Linked DNA regions of Homo sapiens. The protein of the gene in region 2 interacts with the protein of the main gene of each other region in a pairwise test. Each region holds a gene or a part of one and is shown on either strand. Other genes may lie near its edges.

What was found.
Region 1: the proteins of CEP162 (region 2) and PRMT8 interact in a two-hybrid assay, tested with the Homo sapiens proteins (one large-scale study listed by BioGRID and IntAct).

Annotation. Positions count from the first base shown.
Region 1 is NC_000012.12:3,539,561-3,543,210, forward strand, and holds part of PRMT8 (protein arginine N-methyltransferase 8), read left to right. Parts: intron 1-1,045; coding exon 1,046-1,231; intron 1,232-3,650. UniProt on the Homo sapiens protein: S-adenosyl-L-methionine-dependent and membrane-associated arginine methyltransferase that can both catalyze the formation of omega-N monomethylarginine (MMA) and asymmetrical dimethylarginine (aDMA) in proteins such as NIFK, myelin basic protein, histone H4, H2A and H2A/H2B dimer.
Region 2 is NC_000006.12:84,147,527-84,151,176, reverse strand, and holds part of CEP162 (centrosomal protein of 162 kDa), read left to right. Parts: intron 1-1,473; coding exon 1,474-1,615; intron 1,616-3,650. UniProt on the Homo sapiens protein: Required to promote assembly of the transition zone in primary cilia. Acts by specifically recognizing and binding the axonemal microtubule.

The DNA of each region.
Region 1 (3,650 bases), on a different chromosome or scaffold from region 2:
CTGGGTCTCCTGCACTCCAGGCAGAGGAGGTCTCCTGGCATAACTGCTTCTGTTGCAGTGTTTGAGCTTCTGGGCTCCAATTGCTGTCTCTGGGCTCCAGAAGCTCTGTGGACCCCCATCTCCTTCTCCCTGCTCCGCCTAGCCTGTGGAGGACCAGGGAGCAGACAGTGATGGGCAGCAGCAGTGGGTGTAGAGCTGGGCTGGGCCTCAGGATTGGGGCACCCAGAAATAGCAATAATTGGTTGTGTGGAGGCCATCAGTGTGGGTATCCACAGTGCTGAATTCAGGGTAGAACTGTGAATCAGAAACTAGGGGGCAAGACAACAGGTAGGAGACACCAGAACCTAAGACATCTGCATTTTGGGGGCCGTATCCTCTTCTAGCTTGATGCTGCCTGTTGAGTGGAGAGAAGCCCATGGGTTCACGTTCCTGAGGATGCAGGTGGGACTTCGTTTCCTCTAACAAACTCTTACTATATGCCTGGCCCTTTTCTAAGCACTTTGAAATACAAACTTGTCTAATCCTCAGGACAACTCTAGGAGGCAGGGACCATTTTATTCCCATTTTAGAGAAAAGGAAACTGAGGCACTGAGAAGTTCATAAGTTTGCCCAAAGTTGTATAGCTGGGAAATGGCAGAGCTGGGATTCAGCTCCGGAATCTACACTCTCAGGCACCATGCTGTGCTATGCATCTTTCCCTTTATTGAATGTTTCCTATTTGCCTTCAAAGGAAGATACTATTTTCCCCATTTCACAGATACAGAAACTGAGGCCTGCATTGCTCAGGTCACCTAGCTAATAAGAGCTGAAGGTGGGTGAAATCTAGGTGTGTGTGGCTCCTCGGTGGACTGCCATCTCTGGACAGATCACAGCCATGAGCCCAACTGCTGGGAGCTGGAAGGGCTCACCTACCTCCCTTTCAGGAAGGGCTGCTGTGGCTGCTTGAGGCCGGGCTCAGGGAGGGGGAAGGAAAGAGGACCGCAAGCCTCCGAGGGCGGGACCCCGTTGTCTCTCCTAACACCCGACCCCCTTCTCTTCCCCTCAGGTGAACAGCCCCCCCTCCCAGCCCCCCCAGCCCGTCGTCCCTGCTAAGCCCGTGCAATGCGTCCATCATGTGTCCACTCAACCCAGCTGCCCAGGACGGGGCAAGATGTCCAAGCTGCTGAACCCAGAGGAGATGACCTCGAGAGATTATTACTTCGACTCCTATGCCCACTTTGGGATCCACGAGGTAAAGTGTCCCGAGTGGGTGGCTAATGGGGCGAGGCTGACTCTGCTGTTCTGTTGTTTTCAGAGGCAGCATAGTGTGTTCAACTCCTTACCATGGTAAAGGGAGTGCTCCCAGTGTTCCTGAGTCCTCTGACCCTTTCTCCAATCCGGGGGGCCCCTCTGGGAGGGGGCCAGGCCAGGCCTGGAGCAGGGGAGCAGGTGAAAGTGTGTGTCTGTATACTCCACAGCCAGAGAGAGCACACAAGGTGCTTACGGTCCATTTGTTTTACATTCCAGCTCCCGTGTCTCTCCCCAGCCATAAACCCAGCTCATCCATTGTGGGCTGGATAGCGCTGGTCTTTGGACCAGGAGCTCAAATGCTGCAGTCAGAGTCCTGAGGCAGCAAGGACCTTTCAGAGGTCATGATGTGCATTCTTTTGACCAATGAGCACCTCCGGGGGAAGAGCTGCAGGAAGCTTTCTTGGGAGCTTGGCCCAGGTCTGACACCCTGATTGATTGTCTGGAAATTCTTATGTCTAAATGCCAGTTTACCCCATAGCAGGGAAGACTAATGTTGACTATGGAACAGAACAGAACCTCCTAACAAGAGGCATCCTGGCCATAGTGGGGGCCTAATGGTGCCCCTACTGTATATCTTTCATTATAATCTCCAGCACTCTCTCCAGCCACCCCAAATAAACAAGTAGGATTTACTGAGTGCTTGCTAAGTGACAGGCACAGTTCTAAGCACATTATACGTATCATTTCATTTAAACTCTATGAAGAAAATATGTCCGTGATCCTCTTACAGCATAAGAAAAAATTGAAAAAGGAACAAAAGTTTGCTTGCTGTGCAAATCGGTTTTCAAAACAAGTCTTGAAGATCTTCCTTCCACGTACTCACTGCTGTAAACTCTTCCTATGTGGAAATGATGACCCTGCCATTGCCGGAAGGGTGTTTAGTAATAATAGCCAGCTCTTTTGTTTGTTTGTTTCGTTTTAGTGCTTACTACGTGCTGGTGTTGTTCCAAGCATTTTATATTATTGGTTCATTTATTCTTCAGGTCAATCCTGCAAGGTTGGTGTTATTGCTTGTCCCCATTCTCCAGATGATTTAGGCCCTTAAGAATCAAATCAACCCTCATTCATCCTTGACGGTTTTTTTGTGTGCGTGTGTGCGTGTGTGAAAGGCCACAAGCTAGTAGATGGCACAGCTAGCAATCAAACCTTCACCTTTTGTTCCTAACCATCATGCCATACAGCCCTTAAAACAAGTTTCCTTTCTTTCCATCTGGAAACTGTAAAAATTAAATTGCCATATTTGTTCCTGCTGGTTCTTCTGCAGCCCTACATGGAGGTAGAGGGTGGAAGGAGGCCCCCCAGTTACTTCTAGACTCAGGGGCTCAGCCTCATTTAATCCAGGGAGGCTCAAGGTTTGGGTCCCTGAGAACTGTTCACCATGTAAAACCATTAAGCCTGGACCTGCAGGGGAGGAGGACTGGGGCCTGTGTTCGGTCCAGAAGGTCCTGGCCCAGGAGGGCCTGGACAGCTGAGCCTGCAGCTTCTGGGAGATAAAATGCCATCTCAGGGCAGATGGATGAACTCTTACCCCTTCCTTGACCCTGCTCTCCACTGGGCTAGGGATTCCTGGAGCCCCATCCTTGGCCTGTGAGAGGCTCTTGGGGGCAAAAGAGACTCTGCGAAGGCCCCTTCCTCAAGACCTTGTCCCTAATTAAAAGTCATGTTCTCCATGTGACAAGTTCTAACAGGCCTGTGGCTCTGGGTACCCATTTCAGGACAGATTCTTGGGAAAAGAGAGCAGTTCCAGGGACCCCAAAATGTCTCCTCTTGGGCCTGCCCAGAACTCCCCCATTAGAAACCAAACAACCATGAGGTGCACCTCAAGCTGGGTCTGCAGTCTCCCCTCCCCACTCGGAGCCTCCGTGATCGGCTTCTTGGACACCTCCCTCTGAGTTGCTAGGTTCCTGCTGAGCCACACCTTTGGCGTTTAGAGTGTGCTCCACTAGGCTATTACCGATCTCTATAATTCCTTTGGGACTTGGTGTCCCCAGCCTGTTACCTACAGCTTGGCACATTGTCTGGAGAGCAAAGGCTTGTTGACATGGCTGCTAATCCAGTCATTCAGGCGATGCCTGGTCAGCACCATGACCCAGCACCCAGGGGAGAGGACATCAAGTTTCACCAAATAAATACTAGACCAGTTTCCCTCAATTGTGTGTACTTATGGAAAAGTCAAGCTTGTGCATACGTATATATAAACATAGTGCGGGCTGAGCAGGGGACTTAGAGTATAAGACCTGTGAGTCATAGATCACATTCCTGTCCTGGGAGAGTGCTTAGCAGCCTTCCCATTGGGAAATACTTCTGGACATCTAGCTTAAATCCCTCCTGCTGCTGCTATAGACCATCTCATAGGTCCT
Region 2 (3,650 bases):
ACTAAATTTCTCTGCCTAGCATCTCAAGTCTCATCACTATTCTAATACTACTCTACTTACCTAATCTGTCACATTTCCTCATGCCTTTTCCTCATTCTTGTTATAAGTACTACCTTCACAAAACATTTCGTGGAACTTCCCAGGAAATTGCCTTCTCCTACCCCCAACTCCTACATAACTTACTAATATGTACCAAGAAAGGATTAATCATACACAGCCTTGTAGTTCCTTGAGAACTGGTGTAAGATTATGCTGCTTTTGCATCCCCACAGCAATGTGCTGTAGGAGGAGAATGAGCATGGGAAACACCCAACAAATGCTTATTGACTGGCAGCCATGGCAGTGAGTGAGTCATGTTGTTACCATATGGCAGTCATATTGCTACCAAATGGAAAGCTTGTTTCTTAAGTCCTGAATATTATGACAGTAGCATGAAGCTCTTTAAGAAGAATCACATTTTTTCCAGGAAAGAATTTAAAATTCAGGTTTTCCAATTAATTTTCCTGTACATCATTTAAAATTTGTTAATATTGTCAATCTGTTTCTTAGATAAGTCTGGGCCTGAGAAGTGAAGAATAAACTTTTCTAGTCCAATATTTAGACTTTTTACTATCATTCAGTTATATGTGCTTTAATTTAGGTTTTTATGCTTTTTCTAGGACCCTACTCACACTGTTTCCATGGAGAAATATTCATATGGTGAAATAAGCAATGGATAAATTTGTCTATAGTTGGGAAGCACCATATTAATATATAGCAACAGCAGTTTACTAAAATACATGCTTTAAGTTAAATGCTGTTATTTTCAAAGTCTTTCCAATAAGAGAGAAAATGTTTATCTGTAGGAAATATACCAAATCTTTATTTATAATTTTAACCATTTACTGAACTGCCTCTGAATAAATTTTATCACAGAGACAAATGAATAGTCTTTCACACTTACAGTCCAATTAATTAATTGCATATTACAAGCATAATATGTCCTGAGAATTACCATAAAGATTGTCTCATTCTCACAATATGCAACTAGCCCTGGAGTCTCATGCATGGGTTGAAAATTGGTTAATGCTGCCTACAAGGCATTGGAGATTCTAAAGGGAACAGCTGTGATTTTCCAAAGAAGCATCTGGGCAAGAAATCTGAGTTTATCTTAAAAGATCAAATGTCAAGTGCTTTGCTTTTGGAACCCTAGATTCCCTCAGAAAGTGTAGCCTCAGGTTGGGGTAAAGTAGAGATATATCACTATTTCCTCAAGTTTGCCCTTATAAAATTCAGTAAATAGTAGCTCATGGATTGGTCATAAGAACTCATAGGCAGTAGTAATGTATAAAGCACCTAACACAGTGCAGTTAATATTGGTGCCCATTTTCCCCTTGCTTAATTCCCAGGTTTCTTCTACTGTTTTTGTGCTAACTCTGAATTAGAGGTTGAAGAGCCACTTTTATGTGTGGTTTTCTTTCATTTGCTCTGTAGGGTCAAGGAAGATACTGCAGCACACATTGCATCCCTCAAAGCATCTCATCAGAGAGAAATAGAGAAACTCCTTTGCCAAAATGCAGTAGAAAATTCTTCTTCCAAAGTAGCTGAACTAAATCGTAAAATAGCAACTCAAGAGGTAGATGACAAATCTGTTTTATCTTTTGACTTGAATAAACTCGTTTTGACTTTAATGAGATTAAAGTTAACATTGTTTTATTTGGAAATGTTTTAACTTTTTCAGCTTGGTGATAGAAATGGGAAACTATTATTGGCTTGATTTCTTTTTTAAAGAAGATAATACTATATATTTAATTTTTTTAAAGAAGATAATACTATATATTTAATTTTTCTACTTTAAAACTACACCATATAAATAAATATTTTTACAGTTTGTCCCTATACTTCTCAAATAAGTCTCTAAATTTGTCACAGGTGGTGAGGTATATGTCTAACATGATTAGGACCCTAGTACTTGAACTTGGATGTTGAACCGAGTCCCCAAGTCCCAGCTGACAGTTATCCTTAGGCATTCTTCCTGCCCCATGACCTTTTATTAACAAATAATGATTCAGGTCAATAGACAATCAGGCACTGGAATAAAATAATGAAAAGAGAGATACACAGCTCTTGCTCTGATGGAGCATAGTCTTCTAAGAATTATTATAGGGAATGCTGCCAACTCATCAGCATTTCCTCAAATAAATGTGTCTTCCTTTTTGAAAAATAGGTATATCTACTTAGAATATCTATGAGCATTACCATGTGGCCTGTCTTCTGTACTGTTTGTCACTTATAAAAATAGCATTAAAATAGGACTTTTATCTACAATCTACTTTCAAATGGTATATCCAAGAAAAAGAAAAAGGTGGCAAATCAGCCACCTTTTGGGTTATCAAGTTGAAAAATATATGAATGTTTATTGTGTTCATCTTGTCTGTAGGCTTCAATTTTAAGAAAGAAGGTCAGGGAGAAAAACATCAAGAAAGAATTATCTCACCAAGTGTAATTATTTAATACCATCTTAATTAAAAATAAATTCCTCAATTCGGGAAGTTTGAATATGGACTGGCTATTAGATACTAAGAAATTACTATAAATTTTCTTAGGTATAAAATGTTATGGTTTTGTGAGAAATGCCCTTATTCTAAAGAGATGTATGTTGAAGCATCTGAAGGTTTTGTTTCTTTGAGACAGTCTCCTTCTGTCACCCAGGCTGTCTCAGCTCACTGCAACCTCTGCCTCCCAGGTTCAAGCGATTCTTCTGTCTCAGCCTTCCAAGTAGCTGGGATTACAGGTGCACGCCACCATGCCTGACTAATTTTTATATTTTTGGTAGAGATGGGGTTTCACCATGTTGGCCAGGTTGGTCTCGAACTTCTGACCTCAAGTGATCCACCCACTTTGACCTCCCAAAGTGGCATTTGAAGTATTTAGGGGCAAAATGTAATGAAGTCTGTAACTTAACTTCAGATCGCTGAGAAAAAAAAGGACTATTTGACTACGTTAATGAAAAATACTTAAAGTGCCTTTCGTAAGTAACAATCCATACAGCCTTACAGAGAACCTCTCTGGCCTTATCCTCCATAGGAATAGGGTGTCAGAGGGCAACTATAAGCATTCTATCAAGTGATTTTGTATTAAGGAATAGTCTGGAAGAGGTAGGAAAAGTAGTATCATGATGCCATAGTGCCATAAATGTTATTTTCCCAGCGTTATAAATGTAATATTGTAAAATTGAGTTAAAGAGAAATCAGCATAGTCTGATCATTAAAAATACAGCATTAGAGATAAGATAAATTTTTCCCAATTTCTCTTAGTTTCTTGATGGAAGTATCTGTTCATATATTTCAGTTTACCTAAAGATATGAGACTGACATTTATTTCACAGATATTATGAGGCTTATGTTATATTTAAGCCATAGTTCTTAAATAAAAACTATCATACTTAACCACAGAGTATAAAGATAATATTGTCTACCTTTTTCCAAATGTGTAGACTTTATAGAGCTTTATTTTAAAAGGACTTTTTCTAGTCATGAAAAATGTTCATATTTATTTTCCCCCCCTTTTATTGATATATAATGATTTAGATATTTATAGGATACATGTGAGTGTTTGCTACATGCAAAGAATGTGTAATAATCAAGTCAGGGTAATTGGGATTTCTGTCA